2 separate regions of the Homo sapiens genome follow, and region 2 is linked to region 1. Evidence: fine-mapped expression QTL. Tissue or cell type: whole blood. Region 1 holds a variant in brackets; the other region holds the start of a gene. All regions are shown on one strand. Distances are between the middles of the regions.

The links. PIP is the estimated chance that this variant, and not a neighbour inherited with it, causes the effect.
Region 2: it holds the start of KCMF1, and the variant in region 1 is fine-mapped to the expression of KCMF1 in whole blood (TOPMed, PIP 0.97).

The regions. Positions count from the first base shown.
Region 1 is chr2:84,932,377-84,940,553 of GRCh38, reverse strand. No RefSeq gene overlaps it. Among named protein-coding and RNA genes, the nearest start is that of TMSB10, 31 kb to the right of the region's middle. RefSeq lists an enhancer at 536-1,045. The variant C/G (reference allele first, on the strand shown) is at 3,333.
Region 2 is chr2:84,967,626-84,975,802 of GRCh38, reverse strand. KCMF1 (potassium channel modulatory factor 1) reads right to left here and starts at 4,642. Exons shown (of 7, transcript NM_020122.5): 1 at 4,336-4,642. The coding sequence starts at 4,351. RefSeq lists enhancers at 286-827, 828-1,369, 5,636-5,715 and silencers at 3,768-4,857, 4,888-5,137.

The DNA of each region.
Region 1 (8,177 bases):
ATTCTTATGCCTCAGCCTCCCAAGTAGCTGGGATTATAGGTGCCTGGCTAATTTTTCTATTTTTAGTAGAGACGGGGTTTCGCCATGTTGCACAGGCTGGGATTTCAGGTATGCGCCACCACACCCTGCTAATTTTTGTATTCTTAGTAGAGACAGGGTTTCACCATGTTGGCCAGGCTGGTCTCAAACTCCTAACTTCAAGTGATCCGCCCACCTAGGCCTCCCAAAGTGCTGAGATTACAGGAGCAAGCCACTGTGCCTGGCCTGATTTTTTAAAGAGCTCCCTCCCCCAGTCTCCCTAGCTGAGATTGGGGGGTGAGGGCAATTTGCATCTCAGGGAAGGTATGCTGGTCTCATTTCATCTCAATGATCCTTTATCTCCTCCACCAGAAAGCCCATCTTTGGTCATTTCTTTCTTCACATTGACTTGGCATAAACTTTTAACGTTATCAACAACTGCTTAGCCTAATATTAGCTTTCATTTCCCTTCTCCTTCCCACAGAAGGCTTTGTGCTTTCACGAACTCCCGGTTTGGTCAGGCTAAGGTTCTGGATTTCAGTCTTGGCTCTAGCGGCCGGCAGCTGTGTGGACACTCTACCATCTCAGTCTTTATTGCTTGACAATTGTAGCTGCTTTCAGCAAAGTTTGTTAAGCTCAGGGGCTGTTCCAATTGTCAGTTCTTCCTCCTCTGGTGGGGAAAGTCCCCTTTAAAGCCACGTGCTTAAAACTGAAACCTGCAGGCCATCACAAAGGCGGGGTCTCCACACCCATCTCAGCTCCACCAACTGCAGGCTCCCAAGTACCTCTTACACCCTTGCTGATGACCGCCCTTGGAGGAAGTTCAAGGCCAAGGTGGCTTGAGAAACCCAGCTCTTGGCAGTTTCTAAATCTAGATTAATTTTCCCTCCAGAGAGGAAATTTTGTTGGTTGCAACCTGGTTGCTGCCATGTGACCAGGCTTGGCCAGTCCAGATCTTCCCCCAGGTAGAAGGATCTGGATAGACTGACGGCAGACAAATAGAGACTGTTCTCAGCAGCCACGGCAGTAGACTGCAGACTGCAGCCTTAAGTAACCACCCCCCACCCCTACCCTCATCCCCTTCACTTTCACCACTACCCTTTCACATCACCACCATCATAATCACTACCCCTGCCGTCACACCAAGGTCACCTTACAACTCCATTTGTCTAGCAGAGACTTCACTGAAAGATTGGGGTAATAACTAAATAACTGCAGAGGATGAACATGGTCATGTATCTGTGTAGCTAAAGGAACAGTCCCAGTGCATCCCATGGATCTGAGGGAGGCCTAAGGAGCTCTACCAGGAACATCCCTTCCCTGCAGACCTGCTGGTGGGTCCGCAGCTCAGCAAACTAGAAAACTGTGGACACGGCTGGGTGAGGTGGCTCATGCCTGTAATCCCAGCACTTTGGGAGGCCGAGGTGGGCGGATCACCTGAGGTCAGGAGTTTGAGACCAGCCTGGCTAACACGGTGAAACCCCCATCTCTACTAAAAATGCAAAAATTAGCTGGGCATGGTGGCGGGCATCCCTACTCAGTAGGCTGAGGCAAAAGAATTGCTTGAACCCGGGAGGAGGAGGTTACAGTGAGCCGAGATTGTGCCATTGCACTCCAGCCTGGGCAACAAGAGTGAAACTCCGTCTCAAAAAAAAAAAAAAAAAAAGAAAAAAATAACTGTGTAGACTCTGACACTGTGGCATAAATATAAATGTACCCTAACATGCATGGGAACTTGTTTCTAACTTAGCATGTAGCGTGATGAAATGAAAAATAAGGTCTGTTATACCACATAAGGGTTCAGTTAAAGTCTTACCTCAGGATGTTTCTCCTCTGGTTTCACTTTTTAAATGAGTAATAAATCACACGTGTCATCTTTATAAGAAACTCCAGGATAGAGTTTTATTATTTTTTTTCTGGTCTTATATAAAAAAGAGTTGTACTTCTTTAGATTCAGGAGTGTGCCTTTTTTTTTTTTTCTTTGAGACAGGGTCTCATTCTGTCTCCCAGGCTGGAGTGCAGTGGTGTGACCACAGCTCATGAGGCATCCTCCCACTTCAGCCTCCTGAGTAGCTGACCACAGGCGTGTGCCACCACACCCTGCTAATTTTTAAAATTTTTTGTAGAGGTGGGGTCTTACTATGTTGCCCAAGCTGGTCTTGAACTCTTGGACTCTCACATGGACCTCCCAAAGTGCTGGGATTACAGGTGTGAGTCACCATGCCCGGCCAAGAGTTTGCCTTTATCACATAGTTATTGTAAACTGCATAACTAATCAGATTTCCCTTTTCACACAGGCTGCTAGGAAACTTTGAGTCAAATATACGGCCCAGCTCTGGCAAGCATTGAATTCTTTAAGCTCTGAATTTTTTTTTTCTTTTTTTCTTTTTTCTTTTTGAGATGGAGTTTCACTCTTGTTGCCCAGGCTGGAGTGCAATGGTGCGATCTCGGCTCACTGCAACCTCTGCCTCCCGGGTTCAAGTGATTTTCCTCCCTCAGCCTCCCAAGTAGCTGGGATTACAGGGGCCCACCACCACGCCCAGCTAATTTTTTGTATTTTTAGTAGAGATGGGGTTACACTATGTTGCCCAGGCTGTTCTCGAACTCCTGACTTCAGGCGATCTACCGGCCTCAGCCTCCCAAAATGCTGGGATTACAGGTGTGAGCCACTGTGTCTGGCTAAACTCTAAATTTTTTTTTTTTTTTTTTTTGAGACGGAGTCTGTCACTCAGGCTGGAGTGCAGTGGTGTGATCTTGGCTCACTGCACAGCCTCCTCCTCCTGGGTTCAAGCGATTCTCCTACCTCAGCCTCCCGAGTGGCTGGGACTACAAGCACAGGCCACTGCGCCCAGCTAATTTTTGTATTTTTAGTAGAGACGGGGTTTCACCATGTTGGCCAGGCTGGTCTCGAACTCCTGACCTCGTGATCTGCCCGCCTGGACCTCCCAAAGTGCTGAGATTACAGGCGTGAGCCACTGCACCCAGCCTAAGCTCTGAATTTTTAATCCCTATTCCTGGCTTGACTTTTTCTTTACTTTTGTCTCAGTTTTTTTTTTTTTCCTTTTTTTACTGAGTCTTGCTCTGTTGCCCAGACTGGAGGACAATGGCGCAATCTCAGCTCACTGCAACCTCTGCCTCCCAGGTTCAAGTGATTCTCCTGCCTTGGCCTCCCGAGTAGGTACGATTACAGGCACCCACCACCACGCCAGGCTAATTTTTGTATTTTTGTAGAGATGGAGTTTTACCATGTTGGCCAAGCTAGTCTTGAACTGCTGACCTCAGGTGATCTACCCACCTCAGCACCCCCAAAGTGC[C/G]GAGATTATAGGTGTGAGCCACTGGGCCCAAGCCCTTTTGCCTCCGTTTTAATTTCTGTCTTGTTATAAACTTGTAAACCACCATAAACCCTTTCCAGATCAAGATGGAGATTAGACCAGCAGATGTGTCTTGTCTAACCTCCTTTTATACGCAAGTTGAAGAGGTTGTACTGAAAACAACATGGAAGACTACTGGACATTGCACATTGAAATTAAGGTCATCTGTTTTTTTTTTTTCGAGATGGAGTTTCGTTTTTGTTGCCCAGACTGGAGTGCAATGGCTTAATCTCGGCTCACTGCAACCTCCACCTCCCAGGTTCAAGCGATTCTCCTGCCTCAGCCTCCCGAGTAGCTGGGACTACAGGCACATGCCACCACATCTGGCTAATTTGTGTATTTTTAGTAGAGATGGGGTTTCACCATGTTGGCCAGGCTGGTCTCCAACTCCTGACCTCGTGATCCACCTGCCTTGGCTTCCCAAAGTGCTGGGGTTACAGCCACCACGCCCGGCCTAGCCCAGGACATCTTTTTTTCTTCCTCCCCAAAAGGAAAACTACCCAGTCTGAATGAGTATCTTCTAAATCATTTTTAGATTTTGGAAGTCTCAACGTCAAGACTCAGGCATTTTGTTTGTCTTTTGAGACAGGGTCTCACTCTGTTACCCAGGCTAGAGTGCAGTGGTGTGACCACAGCTCACTGCAGCTTCTACCTCCTGAGTTCAGGCGATCCTCCCATTTCAGTTTCCTGAGTAGCTGGGACCACAGGCGCATACGATCACAGCCGGTGAATTTTTTCATTTTTTATAGAGATAGGATCTCCCTATGTTGCCCAAACTGGTCTTGAACTCCTGGGCTCAAGTGATCCTCCCACCTCAGCCTCCCAAAGTGCTGGGATTATAGGCATGAGTCACCACGCCCAGACTTTTTTTTTTTTTTTGAGATAGAGTCTTTCTCTGTTGCCCACGCTGGAGCACAGTGGCATCATCTTGGTTCAATGCAACCTCCACCCCCTGGATTTAAGTGATTCTTGTGCCTCAGTCTCCTGAGTAGCTGGGATTGCAGGTAGCGCGCCATCACACCCAGCTAATTTTTGTATTTTTAGTAGAGATGGGGTTTCACCATGTTGGCCAAGCTGGTATCGAACTCTTGGCCTCAAATGATCCACCCGCCTCAGCCTCCCAGAGTGCTGGGATTACAAGCATGAGCCACCCCACCTGGCCTGTTTTGTTTTTTGAGATGGGGGTCTCACTGTGTTGACGAGACTGGTCTCAAACTCCTGGGCTCATGCAATCTTCCCGCCTCAGCCTCCAGAGTAGCTGTGACTACAGGCACGCACCACCAATTCTGGTTAAGCCTCAGACATTTTTGATCTCTGATCCTCTGTAATCACCCATCCATGAGTCAAGAGGGGACTCTTGATATAACTGCCTGGGTAGGGAAGATCATGGGGTAGCAGAAAATACCAGGGAAAAACACATATAAACACTTACATCAAAATATTATTCATCGGTTTAAGGATACTATTTATTTATTTGTTTATAGATGGAGTTTCGCTCTTGTCACCCAGGCTGGAGTGCAATGGTGCAATTTTGGCTCATCGCAACCTCTGCTTCCCAGGTTCAAGCGATTCTCCTGCCTCAGCCTCCCGAGTAGCTGGGATTACAGGCATGTGCCACCATGCCTGGCTGATTTTGTATTTTTAGTAGAGACAGGGTTTCTCCATGTTGGTGAGGATGGTCTCGAACTCCCAACCTCAGGTGATCCGCCCGCTTTGGCCTCCCAAAGTGCTGGGATTACAGGCGTGAGCCACTGCACCTAGCCTAAGCATAATATTTTTAAAAAGAAAAAAAAAAGACTACTTTTAGAACACCTTTATTTTTATTTTAATTTTTTTTGAGATGGAGTCGCACCCTGTCGCCCAGGCTGGAGTGCAGTGGTGCAATCTGGGCTCACGGCAACCTCCACCTCCCAGGTTCAAGCAATTCTCCTGCATCAGCCTCCTGAGTAGCTGAGACTACAGGTGTGCACCACCATGCCCAGCTAATTTTTGTATTTTCAGTAGAGACAGGGTTTCACCATGTTGGCCAGGCTGGTCTTGAACTCCTGACCTCAGGTGATCCGCCTGCCTTGACCTCCCTAAGTGCTGGGATTACAGGCATGAGCCACCGTGCCCAGCCCACCTTTATAGAAAATTGAATTTATAGAAAATTTATAGAAAAATTGAACAGATAGTAAAGGAAGTTCCCATATATTTTCCTCTCACTGTTTCTCCTATTATTAACATCTTGCATTAGTGTGGTACATTAATTACAATTAATAAGCCAATATGAACACATTATTAGCTAAGGTCCATAGTTTAAATTAAAGTTGACTTTTTTTCTTCTTTTTTGTGACAGGGTCGTGCTCTGTTGCTCAGGCTAGAGTGCAGTGGGACGATCTTAGCTCACAGCAGCTTCAACCTCCCAGAGTCACGGTATCCTCCTGCCTCAGCCTCTTGAGTAGCTGGGACTACAGGCACGTGCCACTACACCTGGCTAAGTTTTGTATTTTTTGTAGAGGTGGGGTTTTGCCTAGGCTGGTCTCGAACTCCTGAGCTCAAGCAATCTGCCTGCATTAGCCTCCCAAAATGCTGGGATTACAGGTGTGAGCCACTATACCTGGCTTGTTATCTTCTAGAAGTTTCATAGTTTTCCATTTTCCATTTAGGTCTATGATCCATTTTGAGTTAATTTTTGTGAAAGGTGTAAGGCCTGTGTTTAGATTCCTTTTTTTTTTTTTTTTTTAATTGAGATGGAGTTTCACTTGTCACCCAGGCTGGAGTGCAATGGTGCGATTTTGGTTCACTACAACCTCTGCTTCCCAGGTTGAAGCAATTCTCCTGCCTCAGCCTCCCGAGTCGCTGGGTTTACAGGCATGTGCCACCACACCTGGCTAATTTTGCATTTTTAGTAGAGACGGGGTTTCTCCATGTTGGTCAGGCTGGTCTTGAACTCCCTACCTCAGGTGATCTGCCTGCCTCAGCCTCCCAAAGTGCTAGGATTACAGGCATGAGCCTCCGTGCCTGACCTAGATTCTCTCTCTCTCTCTCTTTTTTTTTTTTTTTGCCTATGTACATCTAATTGTTCCTAACTCTTTGTTAAAAAGACTGTCTTTTCTCAATGTATTGCCGTTGCTCCTTTGTCAAGGATCAGATGGCTGTATTTGTGTGTATCTATTTCAAGGCTCTGTATTCTGTTCCATTAATTTATTTGTCTATTCTTTTGCAAATACCATACTGCCTTGATTATTGTAGCTTTATAGTAAGTCTTGAAATTGAATAGTGTCAGACCTCTGACTTTGTTCTTTCTCTTCAGTATTGTGTTGGTTATTCTGGGTCTTTTGCCTTTCCATGTAAACTTTAGAATCAGTTTGTAGAGATCCACAAAATAACTTGCCAGCCTTTTTGTTTTTTTTAATTGGGATGGCCTTGAGTCTACAGATCAGGTTGGGCAGAATTGTCATCTTAATAATATTGAAACTTCTCATTCGTGAACATGGAATATTTCTCCTTTTATTTTTATAGGTTTATTCCAAAATATTTCTTTCTTCTATTTTGGTGTTAATATAAATTGTATTGTGTTTTAAATTTCAAACTGTGGCCGGGTACTGTGGCTCACGCCTGTAATCCCAGCACTTTGGGAAGCCAGGGTGGGCAGATCACCTGAGGTCAGGAGTTCGAGACCAGCCTGGCCAACATGGTGAAACTCCATCTTTACTAAAAATACAAAAAATTAGCTGGGTGTGGTGGTGGGCACCTGTAGTCCCAGCTACCTGGAGGCTGAGGCATGAGAATCGGTTGAACCCAGGAGGTGGAGGTTGCATTCAGCCCAGATTGGGCTACTGTGCTCCAGCATGGGTGACAGAGTGAGACTCTGTCTCAAAAAGTAAATAAGTAAAAAATAAAAATAAATTTCAAATTGCAATGGTTCATGCTAGTGTTTAGGAAAGCAATTGACTGTTGCATATTGGCCCTGTGACCAATGGATTCTGCAACCTTGCTATAAGGCTTATTAGCATTAGAAGGTTCTTGTTGATTTTTTGGGCACAGAGACATTAATGCCATCTGTGAGGAAAGACAGGTTTTTTTTCCTTACCAACGCTTATACCTGCCCCCTACTTCTTCTTCTTTTTATTTATTTATTTATTTATTTTATTTGACAGGGTCTTGCTCTGTCACCCAGGCCGGAGTGCAGTGGCATGATCATGGCTCACTGCAGCCTTGACTTCCTGGCATCAAGTAATCCTCCCACTTCTGCCTTTCCAGTAGCTGGGACTATAGGTGCACACCATCATGCCCAGCTAATGTTTCTTTTCTTTTTTTCTTTCTTTTTTTTTTTTTTGAGTCACAGTCTTGCTCTGTTGCCCAGGCTGGAGTGCAGTGGCTTGATCCCACTGCAACCTCTGCTTCCCAGGTTCAAGGGATCCTCCCACATCAGCCTCCCAAGTAACTGGGACTACAGGTGCACACCACCATGCCCAGATCATTTTTCTGTTTTCATAGAGACAGGGTCTCAGTATGTTGCCCTGGCTGTTTTTGAACTCCTGGGCTCAAAAGATCCTCCCACCTCGACCTCCCAAAGTGCTGGGATGAAAGGCATGAACCACCTGCACCTGGCCTTTAAAATTTTTTTTGTCTTCATATTTTATTGCATAAGTTAGGATTTTCAGTGTGATGTTTAATAGGAGTGTTGAGAGTGGATGTAATTTTCTTGTTCTTGAATTTAGGGGGAAAGCATGTAGCTTGTTACCACTATGTATGATGTTAACTGGTTTTTTTGGTAGATTTTATCAACTTGAGGAAGTTTCC
Region 2 (8,177 bases), 35 kb before region 1:
CTTTAAAAGTAGATTTTAAGCTCTGAATAACATACTTACATTTTAAATGTATTTGAAAGTATGATAGTGAGACATTTTAAAAAATACATCAAGATAAAAAATGATTGGGTTCACTGTGAACTAGACAGTGTTGGCAGGGTGAACACAAAGTGGGTGCTAAAGTCTATAAAATGTTAACATGACAAGAACACCACAAAGTGAGTTAAAAGTGGCCCTACAATTCTCACTGGAAAAGTATTAACGGGCAAGCAGGAAAAATGTAGGGTACTGCCATCTCCACTAAGGGTCTGTAGGGTGGGGAGCCTGTTGTCCACTCCTGAGGAACAATTATTTCCATTCCTCATGGTGCTGCTGAAAAGTGAAGTACGGAGGAGCTGGTTCAGTCTGTGAACTCATTTCCCATCACCCAAAGAAAATGACGGAATCCCAAGCTGACTGGGCCCCTTCTAGACTCTTGATAGTTCAAGCTCTATCAACTCTCTAAAGCGCCAGTCTAGGGCAGAGGTAAAGTAAGGCAAACTACAGCCCTCAGGCCAAATCCAACCACCACTTTTTTTTTTGGAGATGGATTCTCACTCTGTCGCCCAGGCTGGAGTGCAGTGGCACGACCTCAGCTCACTGCAACCTCCACCTCCTGGGTTCAAGCAATTCTCTGCCTCAGCGTGAGCCACCACGGCCGGTCCACCACCAGCTTTTATATAGCCCGAAAGTTAAGAATGGTTATTTGTATTTTTGAATGGTGGGGGTGTCAAATGACAAATCATATTTCATGACACATGAAAATTATATGAAATTCGGCCAGGTGCGGTGGCTTACGCCTGTAATCCCACCACTTTGGGAGGCCGAGGCCGGCGGATCACGAGGTCAGGAGTTTGAGACCACCCTGGCCAACATGGTGAAACCCCATCTCTACTAAACGAAATACAAAAATTAGCCGGGCGCAGTGGTGGGCGCCTGCAATCCCAGCTACGCGGGAGGCTGAGGCAGGAGAATCACTTGAACCCGGGAGGTGCAGGTTGCAGTGAGCCAAGATCACGCCACTGCACCCTAGCCTGGGCAACAGAGCAAGACTGTGTCTCAAAAAAAAAAAAAAAAAAAAAAAAAAAAAAAATATATATATATATATATATATATATATATATATGAAATTAAAATGTCAGTGTCCACAAATAAAGTTTTAATTGGAACAGAGCCATGATCTTTCAATTACAGGTTGTCTATAGCTGCTTTCGTACTATTACAGCTCCGCCAAGCCTGCAATGTTTGCCACCTAGCCCTTTACAGAAGAAGCATGCTGAACCCGGGACTAGAGCATCTCTCTATGCTCCTGGTTGCATTGCCTTTCTCAGAGGCACTGCTTCACAAGGTTGAGCCTTCAAGCTTGACAGGTGTCCATCTCAGGACTGTGTCATCCAAAGTTACATTAATAAAATCATAGGATTTAGTGTAATTCATTAGGGTGGGTACAAAGACAAAGTAACATATTACCTGCACACATAAGGCCCTGAAAAGGAAGCACCAAGCAAGTACAACATGATAGGCTTGTTCAAACCTTTTACCAGACTATTATATCCAGTTCAGGATCACACTACTGAAAGGAAATGAGAACTACAGAGAATTTGGAGGTGGACAGATGACTGAGAGTGCAAAAATTACACCACTAAAGAAACACGGAGGCTGGGCGTGGTGGCTCACGCCTGTAATCCCAGCACTTTGGGAGGCCAAGGCGGGTGGATCACCTGAGGTCAGGAGTTCAAGACCAGCCTGACCAACATGATGAAACCCGATCTCTACTAAAAATACAAAAATTGGATGGGTGTGGTGGCAGGCGCCTGTAATCCCAGCTACTTGGGAGGCTGAGGCAGGAGAACTGCTTGAATCTGGGAGGTGGAAGTTGCAGTGAGCCGAGATCACGCCACTGCACTCCAACCTGGTGACAGAGTGAGACTCCAGCTAAAAAAAAAAAAAAAAAAAAAAGAAAGAAATAAAGAAAAAGAAAGAAAGAAAGAAATGCTGAAAGAAATGGGATTCTTTGGCCCAAAAAAGGCAAAGGTAAGAAAAGAACTAATAGCAAGGGTGCCAAACACTGTATTTACTGATAGGTCAAAGTCTTACTGATGACAATAATGACAGTCTGAACTAATATTCCACAAAATATGTATCTAATGAGTTAAATGTGATTCGTGAGACTGCTATTCCTGTCTTAGGCCATAAACTAGACCCTTGAAAGAGAATCACTTGTCGAATATTGTACTATAAGTCTTCAACAGATGTATTTAGGTATGTTCCTTTTTCATTAGGTATGTTCTATTTACTGACATTAACATAAGTTACTAGGAAAGGTGTGCTACTAGTGTGCTGAGGTTCAGCAATATTCAAGTAACTAAAAGGTAATATAAGTTTCATAACCACACACCTTTGCACAGCACCAAATGGGGGGAAATGGGCTTAAATTACAGAATATATGTTACATTCAAGAATGTTCCAAATATGAGATTTTAATTACTCTAACAGAGCACTGGGGGTGAAGGAATTTTCTTCCCAGGACACTTCAATTAGAATGCTCGTCTGGAACTATCTGTATGCTTTCTTAGACCAAGGAGAATGGGTCTGAAACACTCTTCCATGGCTGTGATTCTCTAACTAACCCTCCCAGTTTTCAAGAGTAAGAGAGCTTGCAGCCATTGCTCACTTTTGTTTTGTCTTGAAGGTGGTCAATGTACACAGGACTACAGTTTAAGATAAACTTTAATATCCCAAATTGAAAACTGATTATAACTTTAATTACGAGTTCTTAAAATTACAGAGATAAGGATACATTTCGATTAAGCAGACGAAGTGGGGAAAAGAGGCATAGCTTCCTACTTCTGTGTCCCTTTCAATGAGGCTAGGTACCTCATTATTTCAAAATGCCCAACACTTGAACACTGTAAGTACTCAACAAATGCTTTGCGAAGAAAATATAGTATATTTCATATTAGTTTTGTAACTTTTAAAATACAGAATCGTTGAACACAGAATGTTGAGTCAATTTCAACGTCGCAATTAGTAATGCGAATTTTGAAACTTGTTCTAAATACAATTTTAATCAATCTGAGTTTTTCAGCCTTGAAATTCTAAGGTCCGTATTTCCCAAAGAATATCCTTCCCATAGTGCTAAGCACACACTAAACTGACTCACTAAACTTTCTCCACTCCTACATCACCTATACAGGATTTTAAAATCCGGAGTACACAAACTTTCAAGCCACTTCTACAATCTTGTATTAACCTTAGCAGGACAAACTTTTCGCCAAGACTCTTAACACTTTTTATCCAAAAACCTGTAGTAGTGAAACAAAGAAAACACAACCCCCTCCTCCTTTTCTAAACCATATGGCAATAAATTAAAGTTAACTTATTTCTTACCAGCTCAAAGCCTATACATCGACCCTAAACATTTGTCTCTTTGTGCCCTGGGACTGGGCTTAGAGCTGTCTGCTTATTTGCAACTGTACTCCAATCGTGTTTTAAAATGGCAAAACAAGGTCCAAAACGACCCCCGACCATGAACAGACCTCACCATCGTCATTTTCCAAAACCTGGTCTGGTAGGCAGCACATGCCGGCGAGGGCACCAGGGCCGCGGGGAGCGAGCCCTGCTCCGCCTGGGTGACTGAGCAGGGAGTTTGCTTGCTGCGGCGGGGTCGGATCCACCCCGGGAACTTGGTTACCCGAGCCCAGGGACGCGCCGAGGCCTAGCCGCGAGGCCGGGGCGGGCTCCAGGCGGCGAGGGCTTCCCGTCCCTTGGCCGCAGAGCCTTCCCGCCAGCCCCGCGGTCGCCCGCAGGCGGGGACACTCGCCGTCGTCTCCCGGCGACCGGACGCGCCTGCCGGGTCCCGGGCCGGCTCTTTTGCCTCCTGCTGCCGCCCGCGGCCCGGCTCTGCGACCACACCGGGCTCTTCCGGGGCGGCGGGAGCGCTAGGCCGCGCTGGGGCCCGCGGCTCCTGAACCGGCCGGGCGGGCCTTGGCGTCCGGTATCAGTCCCGAAGGCCGAGCTCCCGCCGGTAACGGGCCCCGCCGCCTCCCCTCCCCCTCCGCCCCATGACAGTGCAAACCCTCCGGCCGCCCGGGCCGCCCCGCCTCCAGCACCAGGCCCAGCTAAGGGCCGCGGCCGTGGCGGCAGCGGCGCCGCGGCTCTCCGCCCTCGCTCGCTCGCTCCCGGGTCCAGCGCCTCGGGCCCGGCTCGGGCTCGGCCAAAGTCTCCGCCGCTTCCCGGCCGCCCTCCGCCGCGCCCGGCCCGGGCGGGGTAGGCCGAGGCCCGGGAGGTGCGGGTGGGGGCGGGGGCTCCTCTCACCTTCATGTCGGGACATCCTAGTTCAGACGGTGGCGGCGCGGCCCCTCCCGGGCTCCGGCTGCAGTGTCCCCCGCGGGGTCCCGGCGCTGCCCGCGCCGGCCGGCCGACTCCCACTCGACTCCCGGGCTCGGCCGCGGGGGCGGGGTGGGCAGGGGAGCGCTCCCGCGGCGGCGGCGGCGGCGGCGGCGGGGAGGCGGCGCGGGGCGGGAATGGGGCCGGGCCTGGTCGGGGCTGAGCTCCTCCAGGAGGCGGGTCCGACGCCGCAGCTCCGCCGGCGCCCGCCGTGACTCCGGTCACTCTCGGGCCTGCCGGCTCCCGGCAGCGGCGCGGCGCTCCGCAAATCCCGCTCCTCCCCTCCCCCGGCCCACCCCCCGCCCCTCTCCCCCGGCTCCCGGCCGCCGCCTCCTCCTCCTCCTCTTCCTCCTCCTCCGCCTCCTTCCGCCGCCCGCACGCCAGCCCCGCCTCTCGCTGCCCTCGCCGGGCCCAGCCGCCCGGAGGCCCCGCGGCCGGCGGTCGCGACGGGGGCGACGCGGCGACGGCGGCTCGGGGCGCGGCGCTTGCCCGCGCTAGCCAGCAGGCCGCGATCGGGCGCCCGTGCCCAGCCTCGGCCTGGCCGCCGCCGCCGCCGCCGCGCCGCGCGTAGGGAGGAAGAGGAAATGCCCGGCGCCGGCTCCCGCTGCTCACCGGCGCGGCCCGAGGGGCGCCCGCCCGCCACGCCGCCCCTAGCCCCGCCTGGGGCGGGCCTAGGCCGGGCTATAGGGGCCAGGGCCTTGGGCTGCGCCGGCCGCGGGAGGTGGGTGCTTCTCGGCGGCGAGCTGCGACTCGGAGAGACTCCTGTCCGCAGGTGCATGGCTTCCGGGCGGGCCTCGGGCAGCGAGCTCCAGCCCCACTGAGAGGCCGCGGACCGCCTGGGGACTTGTGTTTGTGTGTATTTTAAGCCAACAGCCCAGAAAGGGAAGGCGACTGGCCCCCGGTCTTCGCCAGTGTTTCCCGGCCGGGTTACTGGTGGTCAGGAGGGAAGCCAGGAGGCTGCCGGGCTCCGAGGCCGATTCCTTGCGAACCATCTCCGTTAAAGACTCCGCGCCGGGCAGCCCGGGAGTCCGGCGGTACCCGCGCAAACTTTGTCCCAGCGCCTTGGCTCACCGTGAATGCCCTGCCTTGAAAATTTGGAGTTTTTTGTTTCCTGAAAGTGGTCTGCTTTTCCGATTTTATCTGTGTTTTCCATTTTTACCTTCTTATTGTCAATTTGTTTTCAGGCATTATTAATTCAACAAATCTTTGTACTGCCCCTTACCACGTGTCGATGGTTCCGTGGTTTGGTGGAAATAGATCGCGCTTTGAAGTCAAGACGGATCGGCCATGGAATTTTGGCTCTGAGATCCTCTGTGTAACCGTGGATGAGCTACAAGGCCTGCTGAGCCTCCATTTGTCTGGTTTTTGTGGTTGTTTTAATTTATCTTTTTCCATTTGAAGTTGTGGGTTTTGCATAAAATTGAACTGTTACCAGGCTAAGTCAACTGAAATTGGAATCTGGGGTACTGCTTGCTTTGAGGTTACTCTTATACTGTCCACCATTTGCTGGCTGTGTGATCTCTAAACCTCTCTGTGCCCTGACTTTTCTATCTTTAAAATGGACGTAACAACAGAGGTTTAATAATAAGAGGTTTGGAGGTTAAGTGCTAAAATGCATATAAAATACCTAGCACAGGACACAGTAAAAAGATTGTTACCGTATTTCATTGAATCTGGTTTTAAGACACTTCCTGATTTCAAAGAAACTAAAAGCTCATCTTGAAGTCCAGGAAGTAGGTTTTGGGTCACTCAGAACTCCCAAGGGACTGTATTTGGTAGTAACTAGTGATAAACAAACTGGAGTTTAAATGAGGACTTTGTCACCAGAGATATTTTTATTGCCTGTATGGAGCTCCTGCACAAATTTATTCCATTTCTCTTGTAGAAAGAGATCCAACCTGGCCGTAAATGGGGTGTGGTGGAGTAGAAAGAAGGGTATTAAGTAAAGCTCTGTGTCGATGCCTTTCTGAGCATTTTACGGTGTTGGCATATGTGATCCTGGGTATCAGGAGCCTCAATTTCTTGGGCTGTAAAAATGGGGAGAACAACGCTGATCCCATTGTCTCCTGATGGGTAAGTGATGTCTATAAATAAATTGTATAGAGATTAAGGCATTATCAGTGCTGTAGTCTGATAAAATGGTGGAGCAGATAGGAAAGCCTACAACAGTACTGAACTGCAGGAGGGACTAAGAGTAAATATAGAGATTTCATTTGCTTGGTTTTGCAGAGGGTTAGCTAACTAAACAGATAACTTTGTTTTCGACAGTTACTTCATTTTTTTCAGTCAGGCAAGAGTAAGGAGAGAGTAACTAAACCATTTTTTTTCCTCTTTAAATAAGAGTAAGCAGAAATATTATGGTTATTTGGGGTTTTCATGACCTTCATTCACTTAGCGGTCAGGCTGTTCAATTTAAAACAACCTTTTGCTTGCTGCCCTGCCATATGGGAAATTTCATTTCCAAAAAAAGGATTAATTTCCAGCCTGGGCGAAACCCTATCTCTACGGAAAATATAAAAATTAGCGGCCAGGAGCAGTGGCTCATACCTGTAATCCCAGCACTTTGGGAGGCCGAGGCAGGTGGATCACGAGGTCAGGAGTTCAAGATCAGCCTGGCCAAGATGGTGAAACCCCATCTCTACTAAAAATACAAAAATTAGCCTGATGTGGTGGCACGCGCCTGTAATCCCAGCTACTTGGGAGGCTGAGGCAGAGAACTGCTTGAACCTGGGAGCATTCCAGCCTGGATGACAGAGTGAGACTCCGTCTCAAAAAAAAAAAAAAAATTAGCTGGGCGTGGTGGCATCCGCCTTTGGTCCCAAATACTCAGGAGGCTGAGGTGGGAGGATTGCTTGAGCCCAGGAGGTCGAGTCTGCAGTGAGCCGTGATTGTACCACCACATCCTAGTCTGAGTGACAGTGTGACACTCTGTCTCAAAAAAGAAAAGAAGATCAAGAAGGATTAATTTAAATCCTTATACCAAATTGTCTACCAAATGATTTTTGTTCCACTCCAGAAATGTTTTCCTCCAGTCCCTTCCTCTCTCTGCACCCTCCTGAGTTCTCCTTTCTTCTGTGGACAACTGTAACTAATGCGTGTTTTTGCTAGGCTGACCCTTCTTTCATACTATGGCCCAATTATGTTTTTTCAAATAAGCTAATGGATGTAAGCACTGGTGAAATCTGAATAAGGTCTGTAGTCTACTTGATAGTATTGTACCAATGTCAGTTTCCTGGCTTTTGATATTTTTCCATAGCTTTGTAAGATGTTCCCATTTGAGAAAGTGTACCTGGGCCCTCTTTGCAACTACCTATGGGTAAATGATTATTTCAAAGTAAAAAATTAAAGTATAGGGACAGAAATTAGATCAATGGTTACTGGCAACTGGAGCTGGGGAAGGGTGGACTGATCACACTTTTTGAGATGATGAGAATATTCTCTAACTTGATTGTGGTATTTACATTACTGGATGACTCTGTGAATCTGTCAAAACTCATAGAACTATACACCTAAAAGGGTGGTTTTTTTTTTTTTTTTTTTTTTTAGATGAAGTCTCGCTCTTGTCCCCCAGGCTGGAGTGCAATGGTGTGATCTCGGCTCATTGCAACCTCCGCCTCCCGGATTCAAGCGATTCTCCTGCCTCAGCCTCCCAAGTAGCTGGGATTACAGGTGCATACCACCACGCCCGGCTAATTTTTTGTATTTTAAGTAGAGGCGGGGTTTCACCATGTTGGCCAGGCTGGTCTCGAACTCCTGACCTCAAGTGATCT